Linked DNA regions of Homo sapiens: region 1 is linked to region 2. A link means that fine-mapping ties the variant in region 2 to the expression of a gene that starts in the linked region. Tissue or cell type: whole blood. Region 2 holds a variant in brackets; the other region holds the start of a gene. All regions are shown on one strand. Distances are between the middles of the regions.

Region 1 (2,658 bases), 22 kb before region 2:
CTACTAAAAATACAAAAATTAGCTGGGCACGGTTGTGCACGCTTGAAATCCCATCTACTCAGGAGGCTGAGACAGGAGAATCATTTGAATTTAGGAAGCAGAAATTACAGTGAGCCAAGATCGTGCCACTGCACTCCAGCCTGGGCAACAGAGCAAAAAAAAAAAAAAGAAAGAAAGAAAAAACAATCCGGGATGTCCTGTGAAAGTCCCCACCTCCTACAGGTGATCCCATCAGTCCGAACCAAGGTCATCTGAAGCAGGTGTGGAATCACCCTGTTCAGACCGGGCCAGGGAGGCTCTGAGGGCAGCAGGGACAGGATGGGCCAGAGTACCCAGGGAAGCGGGGGGGGGGGGGGGGGGGTGGTTGGGGGGAGTCGGCCCTCACAGGAGGGGAGGGGCACCACTTCCCTGAGACCAGTTCTGGTAAAAGGGGCCGAGCCTCAGTTTCCCTGTCCGTAGAATGAGACCTCAGTCCTGACAGTACCAGCTGCGATTTGGGGTGGTGGAGCAGGAGGGCCTGGGAAGGAGGGGAAGCCATGCTGTCCAGCACGAGGAGAAGCTGAATAAAGGCAAGGGTTACCCTTGAACCTCACCCCCTGCCCTCTCCCAAGATCTCCCACTCGGTGGGCAGCCTGTACGCAACTTGCACGAGTTCAATCCACACAAGCGCCTGCTCGGGCTCTGACCCTGGCTCTGCCGCTTGCCCGCTCCAGGACCTCCCATAAGTTACTTCATTTCTTTGGGCCTCAGTTTCTTTGTCTGCGAAATGGAAATCATAGTTTTCATCTCATAAATGTTGTAAGTAAATGAAATTATTTATGTAACTCCTGGGCATGTGCCAGGCACACGCTGCGCTCCAACAAACATTACAAGTTAACATTCTCGCTCCCAGGCCCGCAGGGACCGCAGAGCCTCCGCCGAGGACCCCAGCCCCCCCAACACCCGCCCTCGCCCTCCAGTCCCCCGCGCCCCCCAAGCCCCACCCTCCCTCTCCCGCGGTCCGCGGGCTCCACCAAGCGCCCACCTGCTGCGCTGCGGCGGCGGCTCCGGGGCCTGAACCCGGGTCTGAACCCGGGCCTCGGCGCCGTGGGGGGTGGACCCGGGAGCGCGGCCGGAGAGGGGAGTCAGGGTCAGCTCCCCGCAGGCGCCCCGACCCCCGCCTCCGCGCCCATCCCGCGCGTCCCCGCCGCCCCAAGAGCGTCCTAAGACACCCGGGGAAACGCCTTCCCTGTGATGCCGCGGACCCAGTCCCGTCGCGGACACGGCGGGGCGGGCGGGGGTGGCAGCGTCCGAGGCGGCGCGGGCCCTTTAAGGCGGCCGGCCTCGTTAGCATACATTTGCATGGCCCCGCCCCGCCGCTTGAGGCTGCCGCGCGGGGCTCAGTCCGGCGGGGGCGCCGCGGAGAGCGGAGGGCGCCGGGCTGCGGAACGCGAAGCGGAGGGCGCGGGACCCTGCACGCCGCCCGCGGGCCCATGTGAGCGCCATGCGGCGCCGCGCAGCCCGGGGACCCGGCCCGCCGCCCCCAGGGCCCGGACTCTCGCGGCTGCCGCTGCCGCTGCTGCTGCTGCTGGCGCTGGGGACCCGCGGGGGCTGCGCCGCGCCCGCACCCGCGCCGCGCGCCGAGGACCTCAGCCTGGGAGTGGTGAGCGCGCGGGCGGGACGGGCGCGGAGCTCCTGGGCCGGAGCCGGGGGTCTCCGCGGGCCGGGTGGCGGGGACCGGGAAGACCCCAGCAGTGCACGTCGGCGTCGCGCGGGAGCCCTGGCGCCCTGGACCCATTTCCTGGGTGGGGAGACTGAGGCAGGGACGCGGGCTGAGCGACCGGGCGAGCGCACGCGAGTCCTGGGGAGGCGCCGGCTGCCGTCCCGGCTCCGTGCGCTGGGAGCGCGCCGCAGCCGCAGGAGCCCGTGGAGTTGTGAGGGGGTCGCCCACCCGGAGCCCGGGTCGCCGGCTTGCAGCAGCCCCGGAGCAGCCGGGCTGGGCGAGAGCAGGCATCGCGGCCGCCCCGAGCTCTGCGCGCTGCGTGCGTTCCGGGTGGGAGTGGCGGGGGCAGGAGCACGCACCCACAAAGCGAGGAAGGGCAGGGGCTACGGAGTGGGGGCACCCCGAAAGCCTTGAGCCCCCGAGTTTGCTCGGTTGAGGGTGTTGGGGGCACAGGGATGCTGGCCCCCAGCTCCCCACTGGACAAGGACCTGGCCCTCAGCCTCCTTCCCCTCCACCCCAGGTCGGCCAGGCTGGCCCTGCCTTGCCCTGGTACAGTGCTGAGCCGGGGGCGCGGGGAGAGCCTTCCTCACTCCACACCCAGTAGCTGTCCCCAGCTCAGCTTAGAAACCCTGCCTGGGGGCAGCGACGTGGCCTCTTCCTACAGCCCCCTCCCCTGTTCCGCAGCCGGGACTCGCGTCTCCTGTGGACCCGGAAGATTTAGAGCACACGTCGTGGGGTCAGCGCCCCCCCGCTGGGGCGGCCGGGTGAACTCCCGCTGGGTTCGTTGGTTCCTTCTGAGGCTCCTGCCCCACCGCTGCCTTCAATGGACTCCTACCCAGGGAGTCGGGCCAGGAGCCGAGGCCTCCCCGCCCCACACAAGTACTCGGCCTGGCCCTCGTCCGCGGACAGTCTCCCAGTGGGGTCCTGGCAGGGCCCCTCGCCCAGCGCAGTGGACA
Region 2 (2,835 bases):
CCATGGCACGGACGGACTGCACCTCGTTCGCCTGCTCACTTGGGTTTCCTCTACTCTGGGCTCCTGTGAAGGACGCTGCTATGAGCGTGAGTGTGCAAACGTCTCTCCAAGACCCTGCTTTCGGTTCTTTTGGATTTATACCCAGAAGCGGGAATGCTGGATCACGTGGTAATTCTATTTTTGACGTTTTGGGGAGCCTATGTTCTGTCTCCCGCAGCGGCTGCACAATTTCATACTCCCTCCCCGGCAGCGCCCGGCTCTGCCGTCCCCATATCCTCCCGACACAGGTGACTTTCCACGTTCTTGACAGTGGGGGCGAGGGGGCGTCTCATTGTGGTTTTGAGGGCGTTTCTAGTGACGTTGACCATCTTCAAGTGCTCAATGCCATCTATATTTCTTGGGAGAAAAGTGTATTTAACGCAGGGCACGGTGGCTCACACCTGTAATCCCAGCACTTTGGGAGGCCAGGGCGGGCAAATCACCTGAGGTCAGGAGTTCGAGACCAGCCTGGCCAACATGGTGAAACCCCGTCTCTACTAAAAATACAAAAATTAGCTGGGTGTGGTGGTGGGCGCCTGTAATCCCAGCTACGCGGGAGGCTGAGGCATGAGAATCGCTTGAACCCAGGGGCGGAGGTTGCAGTGAACCGAGATCAAGTCACTGCACTCCAGCCTGGGTGACACAGCAAGACTCCGTCTCAAAAAATAATGATCATAATAATAATAGGATGGCATGTCGTGGGCCTCGGTTTGGCCCGAGTTGTTGTTTCCATCGGTAAAGGGGTGGCCGGCAGCGTCCACAGGCTGGATGGGATGGCCCGGACTGGGCACAGTAGGTGCTCACTAAGTATCCATGTGGCCCCTGTGATGTGGGGTGATTGCAGTGTGGCCGCTGTCCCATCAAGCCCAGGTGAGGGGCCAGGGCAAGGGCGGCTGACACAGGAGAAGGAAAGGCAGGAGCCTCCTGCCCTTCGGGGTGGGGCCGAGCCCCGGCCCACAGCTGTTTCTCTCGCCCCCAGGAGACAGGTACTGGGTGTTCAAGGACAATAACGTAGAGGAAGGATACCCGCGCCCCGTCTCCGACTTCAGCCTCCCGCCTGGCGGCATCGACGCTGCCTTCTCCTGGGCCCAC[A/G]ATGACAGGACTTATTTCTTTAAGGACCAGCTGTACTGGCGCTACGATGACCACACGAGGCACATGGACCCCGGCTACCCCGCCCAGAGCCCCCTGTGGAGGGGTGTCCCCAGCACGCTGGACGACGCCATGCGCTGGTCCGACGGTGAGTGCCAGCTGGGGGGACGGGCCATGCGGCCTTGGTTTCCCCACCAGGAGAGGGGCATCACTACAGGGCAGCCAAGAGGTTCCCTGAAAGGAGGACGGCCCCGGTCGGTGTGGGCTCTGAGGGTCCCAGCCCCTCGCCTGGAGCTGCCGACCCTGCAGGCGTCCCCGAGTCGCTCCCCGAAGGCCTGGCCCACGAGCTGCCCTTGTTCTCCCCGCCCTCAGCACTCCCTCGCCCCTGCTGCTCCCCCAGCCACGCTCCTGCCCCAGGGCCTTGGCACTGGCCATGCCTCGTCTGGGCACACTTTCCTGAGATGTCCACACAGCCCCTCCCTCGCCGGCCCCAGCCCTGCCAAACGCCCTCCTGGGCATCACCCCTGCCACGTCCCACAGTGTAGAAGAAACCTCCCCACAGGGTCAGCTCCAGGGACGGCAGCATCCTCTGTTTTGTTTTCAACGCTGCATCCTTGTCACCTGGAACAGCCCTGCACAGAGTGGGCCCTCAATAAATATCCAGTAAGGGAAAGAGACTCTGAGGGTCTCCTGGTCCATCCCCTGCCCCAGCAGGCTCCTCTGGAGCTTCCCAGGCCTGTGACCATGCCTGCAGAGCTGCCCACAGCTGAGCAGATGCTGACCCCATCTCAGATATTATCTGGGCACCCCCTGCCATCTAGCACGAGCCGCCCCCCACCAGCCGTCTGGTCTGACCCCCCACTGCAGTCTTGTGCAAGCCCCCTGCTGTCTGGCCCGACTCGAGCCCCTTCCGCTGCAGCCCTCCCTGAGCCCAACGCTCCCTCCTCGCTGTCCGGCTCGAGCCCCTCCTGCTGCAGCCCTCCCCTGAGCTCAGCTCTCCCTCCTCTTCTCAGGTGCCTCCTACTTCTTCCGTGGCCAGGAGTACTGGAAAGTGCTGGATGGCGAGCTGGAGGTGGCACCCGGGTACCCACAGTCCACGGCCCGGGACTGGCTGGTGTGTGGAGACTCACAGGCCGATGGATCTGTGGCTGCGGGCGTGGACGCGGCAGAGGGGCCCCGCGCCCCTCCAGGACAACATGACCAGAGCCGCTCGGAGGACGGTTACGAGGTCTGCTCATGCACCTCTGGGGCATCCTCTCCCCCGGGGGCCCCAGGCCCACTGGTGGCTGCCACCATGCTGCTGCTGCTGCCGCCACTGTCACCAGGCGCCCTGTGGACAGCGGCCCAGGCCCTGACGCTATGACACACAGCGCGAGCCCATGAGAGGACAGAGGCGGTGGGACAGCCTGGCCACAGAGGGCAAGGACTGTGCCGGAGTCCCTGGGGGAGGTGCTGGCGCGGGATGAGGACGGGCCACCCTGGCACCGGAAGGCCAGCAGAGGGCACTGTCCGCCAGGGCTGGGCAGGCTCAGGTGGCAAGGACGGAGCTGTCCCCTAGTGAGGGACTGTGTTGACTGACGAGCCGAGGGGTGGCCGCTCCAGAAGGGTGCCCAGTCAGGCCGCACCGCCGCCAGCCTCCTCCGGCCCTGGAGGGAGCATCTCGGGCTGGGGGCCCACCCCTCTCTGTGCCGGCGCCACCAACCCCAC

The links. PIP is the estimated chance that this variant, and not a neighbour inherited with it, causes the effect.
Region 1: it holds the start of MMP17, and the variant in region 2 is fine-mapped to the expression of MMP17 in whole blood (TOPMed, PIP above 0.99).

Annotation. Positions count from the first base shown.
Region 1 is chr12:131,827,012-131,829,669 of GRCh38, forward strand. It overlaps MMP17 (matrix metallopeptidase 17), which reads left to right and starts at 1,382. Exons shown (of 10, transcript NM_016155.7): 1 at 1,382-1,642. The coding sequence starts at 1,484. RefSeq lists a silencer at 1,247-1,376.
Region 2 is chr12:131,848,784-131,851,618 of GRCh38, forward strand. It overlaps MMP17 (matrix metallopeptidase 17), which reads left to right. Exons shown (of 10, transcript NM_016155.7): 9 at 1,019-1,276; 10 at 2,142-2,835. The coding sequence ends at 2,491. Among named protein-coding and RNA genes, the nearest start is that of MMP17, 22 kb to the left of the region's middle. RefSeq lists an enhancer at 2,664-2,833. The variant A/G (reference allele first, on the strand shown) is at 1,132.